Linked DNA regions of Homo sapiens. The protein of the gene in region 1 purifies or fractionates together with the protein of each later gene. This does not show direct contact. Each region holds a gene or a part of one and is shown on either strand. Other genes may lie near its edges.

Region 1 (5,356 bases):
CCCTCTTATGGTAACTCATCTGCAGCCTCTGATCTGTCCCCCTGAACAGGTGTGTCCTACGTGCTGTAGATTTTTTCCTTCTCTCCTCCGGTGTCCCCCTCTATTACTTTCAAAACAAGTGTGTGCTAAATTGTAGCAATATTAATCCCCCAACGGCTGCACCTCCACAGCGAGCAATAGGCAGAGGCAAGAAATTTCACCTGAGGTCAGGGATGGAAAAAAAGGTCCCAGCCCAGGTGGCCACATCCCACCCACCCAGAAGGCAGGCCCAGCAGGCCCCACCCGTCCCTGCCCAGGCAACAGGCAGTGGCTGGCGTGACCCAGGTCCCGCTAGAGCCCTTCCCTGGGATGCATAGCCAGAGACTATGCTGAGAATTTCACCACGCTCTATGGGTTATTAGCAGAAATTGCAAAATAGTCCAGTCACCATTGAGCACAAGTAGGCTGTACCTGTGCGAGCTGGACTTTGCTCACAGTCCCCAGTTCCACTTGAGGAGCAGGGTGGTGAATTCATCGTCCTCATGCCACTGAGCTGAGGCTTGCCCAGTCTTCTCCTGGTTTGCTCCCTTCTCCCATGGGTTTTCAAGGCACATGCGGCCATGCCAACCGCTGTGAGGCGTATCCACATTGCCCTCCTCCTGCCCTTTTCTCTCTCCTCCCCTTTTCTTTCCTGCACTTTCTCACTCTCCCTTGCAGCCAGAACCCTTGGGTTACCAGTCATTGCTGCTTCTGGGGCTTCTCCCCCTCCCGGTCTAGGAGGCTGCACCCCGAGGCCTGCACCGCTTGGGATGAGGGTCTTCACCACAGAACCCTTTTGCCAGCAGCCCCTGAGGCTGTTTCTCAGGCACCTGATTGCAAGCTGCTGGCCACATCTCCTTCATGCCCACTCTGTTCAATGGGAGGAAACTTTTCTTCCTCATAGAACATTGCTGATTAAAAAGCCAAAAAAGAAAACAATAGTGAACAAATAGAATTAAGAGGTTCAAAAATGGAGTGATGACGTCCTCCTGTCCAAGGGGATTGTCGGGTCTCATTGGGAGCCCCACGTCTATCTGGCTATGTGTGGTGGCCTGTAATCCCAGCACTTTGGGAGGCCAAGGAGGGAGGATCACTCGAGCTTAGGAATTGGAGACCAGCCTGGGCAACATAGTGAGATCCTGTCCCTATGGAACATTTTTTAAAAGGCCGGGCGTGGTGGCTTATGCCTGTAATCCCAGCACTTTGGTAGGCCAAGGCGGGCAGATCACCTGAGGTTGGGAGTTCGAGACCAGCCTGACCAACATGGACAAACCCCATCTCTACTAAAAATACAAAATTAGCCTGGCATGGTGGTGCATGCCTGTAATCCCAGCTACTTGGAAGGCTGAGGAAGGACAATTGCTTGAACCCGGGAGGCGGAGGTTGGGGTGAGCCGAGATCGCACCATTGCGCTCCAGCCTGGGCAACAAGAGTGAAACTCCAACTCAAAAAAAAAAATTTTAAAAATTAGCTGAGCGTGGTCGTGGTGGCACATCCTGTAGTTCCAGCTACTCCGGAGGCTGAGGCAGGAGGATTCTTTGCTTGAACTCGGGAGATCAAGACTGCAGTGAGTGATGATCTTGCCACTGCACTCCAGTCTGGGTGACAGAGCAAGACCCTGTCTCCAAAAACAGAAGAAAAAGAGAGAAAGAGAAATAGAGTCAGAATAAAGTATGTGTAGGAGGCCAGGCTGGCAGGAACTTTGCAGTCACACTCAGCAGAGAATACTCCAGAAATGTGGGCTGTTAATCATGTTGGGATTTATATCCCTCCTCAAATATTTGGAAAGGCTGCCAGGCAGGAAAGGAGCAAGTGAATTTTGTATGATTCCCAAAGGAGAATTAGGACCCCTGGGTTTAAGTCGTGGAGATGCAGATTTGGGCTCAGCATAATGAGGAATTTTTAAATCATTACGGCGATGCAAGGAGGGAAAGGGGAGGGGACTTGGTGACCCCTCCCATGGGTGCCCACAGCACCCTGGGGTCTCCTGCCTCCCATTCTGAATTCTTTGAAACACTCTGGTTCCATTAGGAACTCCTTGACCTTCGACCCGTGGGCATATGCTGAGGGAATACCACCCCTAGGCCCAGAAACCAGAGATCCTACCTGGCCTTTTCGCTTTCTGTTCTTTAAAGCTGCTCCAGATAAAGAGGTGAGGGCTCCAAGGCTCTCTCCCTGGAGACCAGAGAAACCAGAACGGAAACAAAGAGCCTTTCACTTGTTTTTACCCACCTGTTCCCAGTGATGTTGCTGTGGCCTTACTGTGACTCGGAACTCTTCTCCCTAATCCCTTTCTCCCATGTCCTGGTGACTTTCATGGAACATCCTTGTAAACACTATTTCATGTGCTGGCCTCCTCCACAGGGCCTCACACACCCTGTCAGCCCGTGGCTGGGCTGGGCTTACATGTAAGTGCAGCCCTGTGGTGCCTGGGCATTGCATCCTCCACAAAAGAGCCGGTGGAGGAGATGGCTGGTGGCAGTCAGAAGCCTGAGAAAGGCAAAACCAGGAACCCAGGACTGACAGCCAGGGCACCTTTGCTTCATGTTATAAGAGTGTCCTTCCATGCCTGGAGCTCCTCTGCACTTAAGAAATATGCAAATTCATCCAATGCTGTTAGGATTCAGAAGAGTTCTCCTTGGAAAGCAGAGTCAAGGCTCACTCATGGGCGAATTCCCAGCCGCCTCCAGCGTTGGAGCCCTCTGGGCATCTGGTCCTCTCTGGCCCCAGGGAAGTGGAGTCTGAAGTAGGACCCACAACTCGATTTGCACCAACAGAAGTCATTTTCTTATGTCAGCCTTCAGCTTCCACTTTCCTGGTCACCTTTCTTAGGCTTTTCTCTGCTGATGCCACCCCTGACTCATGCAATTACCCCAGATGCCACAGGGCTTGTGGGATTCTCACAGTGCACAGGTTTTCAGGGTGACCTACCCTGTGAGTGCCTCCAAGTGGAAGCCAAGTTAGTGCTCAGAGCAACAGGGGCACTGATGAAACTGGGAAAAGCACCTTGGCAAGGACGGAGCCCGAGCTCAGTAATGGGAAGGCTGTCCAGCCCTGCTGCCGGTATCCAGGAAGGTAAACTCTTTCCTAGGAGACTTCAAAATCAGCATAAATGTCCAGTTATCTGTAGTGTCGCGGTTATACCCATCCAACCACTGATTCAACAACCAGCCTCCAGTGGGGAATGCGGGTCTTGTTCTTGCATGGGTTGGAGGCTCCTGGTATCTCTAACTGACATCCAACAACCAGTAACTCAAGTCACTAAGAGGGTAGGGTGGGGAGGAATGCCAGGCCAGAGCTGGTGTTTGCATTATGTGCTATGCACTCACAAAACATTGTTTTAGTTTTAGAGATACTGAATAATTCTTCCCAAAAAACTCTGCATTCGGTGACTATCCTGTTCCTGGTCCTGAGTTTGATCACGTCGCTGCTGAGCTCTGGGTTTACCTTCTACAACAGCATCAGCAACCCTTACCAGACATTCCTGGGGCCGACGGGGGTGTACACCTGGAACGGGCTCGGTGGTGAGTGGCCCTGTGAGACTCGGTGCTCTGCAGAAAACTGCATCCCGCTTGTCCCCATGTCTCTGCCTCTCACACATGCATGAACATACACAGTCACGTTTACACCAAGGAAACTATGAGGACCTCCCATGAGCTGAGGGCTGGGGTTTATTTTGTCAATCCAAAGTGTTTATGAAGCATCTCTGGAAATAGAATTCTGTTTTAAATGCACTGCTGAGGAGGCTTATAACAAGCCAGGCTTTGCTTTTGAGACTCTAACATAAGAAGTCAAAATGCACAAAAGTCAACAAAATATTGACCGGGCTCCTGCCATGTGCTGAACTCCAAACTAGGCTCTGTGTGGCATGTAGAAGCACACACATGTGCACACACATACACATGCACACGCATGCACACACACATGTGCACACACACACACACACACATGAACACACCAGCACACACTTCCTTCTCTTTCCTCCTCCACATGACAAGAGTCCACTTGGTCTCCACACATGACATCTCTGCATGGTCGTGCCACAGAGCCACAGATAATGGCACATAAGAGAATCTGGGTGCAATACCTTTTTTGTGGGCTACCTGTGAGCCTGGGGTGTTGCTGGGTGGTGTTGCTTGGTTATTTTGTTTGTTTCATGGGTGTGGTGCTGGGAGGATGGAGCCCAGATGGGAAGCGGGTCCCAGCTTTGACTCACAGTCTTCTGGCTTTCACTGGGTTTTTCCAGGGCTCTGCAGCTGCCCATCTGCCCAGAGCAGGGCTGGGGAAGTACCTATTTGCCCTGCCCAGCTGCCTTCAGGGCCTTTTGCTCCCACCAGGCAGTCAGGTTTCTCCTGTTCTTTCCCTCTCCACCATCAAAACTGGACCTTGGGAATGAAGCCTGTCCTAAGGAAATGATTTCTGAGGTGGCTTCATGTAAGCTCCAGGTGACGCATTTTAACACAGGCCTGAAATTTTGAAGCACAGGAAGGAGGCTCTGGATATCAGACATGTCAGGAAGCCTCGGAGGAGGGGCTGAGGGCAGCATCATCCTGTCCCTCCATTGAGTGTCATCCTTACCACGAGGTAGGCGCAGGTGGCTGAAGGAGGCCAGCGTCTCCATGTCATGGAGTAGAGGTGTGCTGAGGAATATGAACAACTGGCTCTCCAGTAGGGAAAAACAAAAAGAGAAAAAAGCCCTGGTGATTGGAATCGTGTAAACACAGCCACATGGCCATTTTCAAACTCCCAATGTGAGATCACTGACGTGGAGTTGAGATGTACAAACTGGCCCCAGCACAGCACAGGTAGGACGGTGAGGGATGCTTTTTAAAATGGAAAAGCATTAAGCCAGGACTACAGGTGGACCAGAGTCACATTACATACTCACACCTCAGCTCTAAGGATTTGGGGTCAGGCTAGTTTAACCACATTCATATATGACTGGCTCTTTCTTTCTGTGCTTTTATTATTTGGGGGTAAAAACAAATAAATCCCCCAATTTAATGGGCAGCCACTATGGACGAGGCACAAAAGTCCTGTAGAATGAATATCACTGTTTCCCTTTCTTATGGCAGAGCTGAGTGTCAGAGGTTAAGGGACTTTGTTACACAATCAGATATACTCACCTGAATGCCAGAGTCCCTTGCCTAAGCTACTTGTATGATGATGGTTCACCCCAGTCAATCAAACCAAGGTAAACCAATTGGTACTTATGGCCAGGGTAAAGAGATAGATTATTTTTACTTTTGCTCATGCAACTAAGAAAGTACGAGAAGCAGTGGCTTCAGACACAGCTCGAGTCAAGGTCTCGGCCTGTGTCGTGAGGACTGTTTCCTGC
Region 2 (4,428 bases), on another chromosome or scaffold:
ATAGAAATTCCTGCCCTCATGCGGTTACATTCTAGCATGGAAAAGCATCACTAGTAAATTATATAGTATGTTACAAAGTGATAAGTGCCAGGGAAAAAGGAGCATTGTAAGTAGGATAAACTTTCCTCTTAGTGCCTTGAACATAGCAGGCACCTTCTGTATAAATAAATGAAGGAATGGATGATTGAACTACATTGATTTGGATGAGGAGACTGAGGAAATAAACCACTTTGTCCTCTTAAGAGTTCCCGTTCTCTTTTGCCTCTCTGCTGCTCCTTTTCCTGCCATTCTTTTTCTTTTGGTGGGGGATTTTAAAAGAGCTGTACCACTTTCTCATCCTTTTTTCTTTTTCTGTTTCTTTGCTTTTCTTGCTGGTGGGGGTTGGGGGAAACCCATGAACTATTGAAACTCTGGACCAAGGAAGTTCTGTGTGTCTAGCATGTAGCTAAAAGGATGCAAGGTAGAGGAAGAAATCCTTTGCTGGGTACAAAATAAGGATATACATAATAAGTCTGTGTTCTGACTCTCCACTTTTCTTTGGGAGATGGTTAAGAACATGGGCTCGGCTGGGCGCGGTGGCTAACGCCTGTAATCCCAGCACTTTGGGAGGCCAAGGCAGGCGGATCACGAGGTCAGGAGATCGAAACCATCCTGGCTAACATGGTGAAACCCCGTCTCTACTAAAAATACAAAAAATTAGCTGGGCGTGGTGGCGGGCGCCTGTAGTCCCAGCTGCTTGGGAGGCTGAGGCAGGATAATGGCGTGAACCCAGGAGGCAGAGCTTGCATTGAGCCGAGATCGCGCCACTGCACTCCAGCCTGGGCAACAGAGCGAGACTCCGTCTCAAAAAAAAAAGAACATGGGCTCTAAGCCAAACTGCTGGGGTTCAAATTGTGTTTAATCCATTATTACTTGTAAGACCTTGGGCAAAGTAATTAACCTCTGTGCTTTGGTTTCCTCTTCTATAAATTGAGAGTAAAATAGTACTTAATGGCATTATTTTAATAATTGAGAGTTCTCATGTAAGGCTTTTAGAGCAGTGCCTGGCACATGGTAAATGCTTAATAAATGTGAATGCTGACAGCTTGCCCTGAGAGGTAGAACGTGAAGGTGGGGAATGCAGCCGTAATGAAGATGGAGGGAAGTGCTCGTGTTTATTAGATGCTTGTTCTTTGACAAGTAGGGTAGGCATTTATATACATTTTCATTTATCCTCAGTAAAATCCTGGGAGGATGTGAAGATCAGAAAGTTAAGAAACTTCCTCACAGATCTGGGATTTGAACTTAAGTATCTCTAACACTAAAGACAAGATTTTTGTTATATCATGCTGAGGAGGGAGATTGGTTGGTATGCAGAATATGTATGCTTCTCTAAAATGGACAGCGGGATGGTTGGACAAGAGACCATTTTGTCATGTATCTCCTCTTTATTATGTGTCAGCAAGCTAATGGATATGATCTAGCATGAAAGTTGATAACCTTAGGGAAGGTTCTGAATTGTATACGTCAGCCAAGGAATATTTCACAGAGGAGTTTTGACTTAGGGAACAGGTTTTTGCTCCAAAAGAATTGGGGGAGGTGGATGGGAAAAGGGAAGATTGTTGATCAAAGGGTATAAAATTGCAGTTAGACAGAAGGAATATACTTTAGTGATCTGTTGCATAGAATGGTGACTATAATAAGTAATAATCGGCTGGATGTGGTGGCCCAGGCCTGTAATCCCAACACTTTAGGGGGCCAAGATGGGAGGATTGCTTGAGGTCAGGAGCTGGAGACCAGCCTGGGTAAGATAGTGAGACCCCATCTTTTAAAAAAAACAACAAACTCAATTAGCCAGGTGTGGTAGTACATGCTTGCAGTCCTAGCTACTTGAGAGGCTGAGGCAGGAGGATTGCTTGAGCCCAGGAGTTTGAGGTTACAGTGAGCTGTGATTGCACCACTACACTCCAGCCTGGGTAACAGAGTGAGACCCTGTCTCTAAAAAGTAATAATAATAAATAAATAATAATGCATTGTATACTTCAAAATTACTAAAAGAGTACATTTTAAATGTTTTCTTTCTTTCTTTCTTTTTTTTTTTTGAGACAATTTCTCTCCCCTCTCCCAGGCTGGAGTGCAGTGGCGTGATCTCGGCTCACCACAACCTCTGCCTCCTGGGTTCAAGTTATTCTTGTGCCTCAGCCTCCCGAGTACTGTGATTACAGGCATGTGCCACCACACCCGGCTAATTTTTGTATTTTTAGTAGAGATGGGGTTTCAGCACGTTGGCCAGGCTGGTCTTGAACTCCCAGCTTCAAGTGATCCGCCCTCCTCAGCCTCCCAAAGTGCTGGGATTACAGGCGTAAGCCACTGCACCCAGCCTTAAATGTTTTCATCACCAAAAAAATGAGAAATATGTGAGGTGATAGATTTGTTAATTAGCTTGATTTAATTATTCTACAATGTGAACATATATTGAGACATCACAGGGTACCCTACATATATATAATATATACAGTTATTATTTGTCAATTAAAAATAAAATAAATATTTTAAGAGAGAATGAGGAAGGCTGCCCTGAGTTGGTATGAATCTTCCCTTGGAGCTTATCAGGATGGAGTGGCTGTTCTTGATGTAGGAGGTGTGGGTTCTGGGACACACAAGCAGGATCAATTCTGTGTCCAGAGCCTCAGAAAAGAAACATACTCTATTGTGGCTCCCAGACCCTTCCATAATTTCACAGCATGGAGAGCTGTGCTTTCTTCATAGGCTTTTTTGAGGTTACTATTGTTTTTGAGGGCTCCCTCAGGAAATTAATTGGTCTGCTTTTCCAACTAGGAAGAAGATTCCCTCCTTAATATCTGCAAGGAGATTGTGGAACGATGGTCAGAAACTCAGAATGTTGTCACCAAAGTGAAAAAAGAAGGTAGAGTCAGAGTTTCTGTGTTTAACTTCCTGAGCCTTTTCCAGCAGCCTTGACTGTATAGCTGTTAGGAAGAGATCTTTTCATTTTCCCCTTGGATGCTCATTTTCCCGAAGATAGTGTACACTGGCAAACACCCAACAGCCTGTGTTACCTTTACTGAACATTGGCTTCCTTTTCTTTTTTTGCATTTTTCCATTTCGACTGACCACAGTTTTCTTCATTGTGGTTTTTTACTTTTTCTTTTTCATCATCTTTCCACTGCTTCTTGTAGATTTGCATTGCAGGTATGGAGTCAACTATATTTTTACCACTTCCTACTTTTTTCATGTTGTCTTTTTTTTTTGAGACAGAGTCTTGCTGTGTCACCCAGGCTGGAGTGCAGTGGCGTAATCTCAGCTCACTGTAACTGCTGCCTCCCAGATTCAAGTGATTCTTGTGCCTCAGCCTCGTGAATAGCTGGGACTACAGGCTCATGTCACCATGCCTGGCTAATTTTTGTGTTTTTAGTAGAGATGGGGATTTCACCATGTTGACCAGGCTGGTCTCGAACTCCTGACCTCATGTGATCTGCCCACCTCAGCCTCCCAAAGTGCTGGGATTACAGGCATGAGCTACAGCACCCTGCCTCATGTTGTCATTTCATAACACAAATTATGGTTGGTATTTGGCTTTATTCAGCTAAACACTTTACCCTTTAAAATGGAAGAGAAATGGGCGAATATACCCACCACTAGGATGGTAAATTAGGTACAGAAAACTCAAATCATAAAAGCCAAATTTGGAAAGATTCTGAACTCTGTACACTGTTGGTTCTCAGTTTTGGCTGTATATTAGAATCACTTAATGTACCTGGGTTGGGGCCCAGGCATTTGTATTTTTTAAAAGCTCCTGTAGGTGATTCTAATGTGCAACCAAGTGTGAGAACTACTATTTTACACCATTGTTTCCTTTTCTTGAGACTGGAGAACTTACTAGTTGATTTTATTTTATAGCATGGCAAAATATTTTTTTTTTTGAGACGGAGTTTTGCTCTGTCGCCCAGGCTGGAGTGCAGTGGCGTGATCTCGGCTCACTGCAAGCTCCGCCTCCCCGGGTTCACGCCATTCTCCTGCCTCAGCCTCCCGAGTAGCTGGGACTACAGGCGCCCGTCACCACGCCTGGCTAATTTTTGTATTTTTAGTAGAGACGGGGTTTCACTGTGTTAGCCGGGATGGTCTCGATCTCCTGACCTCATGATCCACCTGCCTTGGCCTCCCAAAGTGTTGGGATTACAGGCGTGAGCCACCGCGCCCGGCCAAAATATTCTTAATCTAAGAATTCCACCTGGCATAATCAGAAACATAAACAGGACCAGCTTAAGTTGATTTTAGATTCCTGCTTAGGTTTTTGGGATGCCATGGGGAAGTTGAGTGTTCAGAGGCTTAGTTTTCTGTGGTTCTAATGCAGTGCTTTTCAACCTTTTTTTTTTTTTTTTTTTTTTAAGGCAGCAGAACTTCAGTATATAAAACAAGTAAAATCAGGGC

What was found. The genes of interacting proteins can lie anywhere in the genome.
Region 2: the proteins of CLRN3 (region 1) and CCDC43 purify together in Homo sapiens (affinity purification with mass spectrometry; one large-scale study listed by BioGRID and IntAct). This does not show direct contact.

Annotation. Positions count from the first base shown.
Region 1 is NC_000010.11:127,881,882-127,887,237, reverse strand, and holds part of CLRN3 (clarin-3), read left to right. Parts: intron 1-3,362; coding exon 3,363-3,542; intron 3,543-5,356.
Region 2 is NC_000017.11:44,682,349-44,686,776, reverse strand, and holds part of CCDC43 (coiled-coil domain-containing protein 43), read left to right. Parts: intron 1-2,817; coding exon 2,818-2,905; intron 2,906-4,428.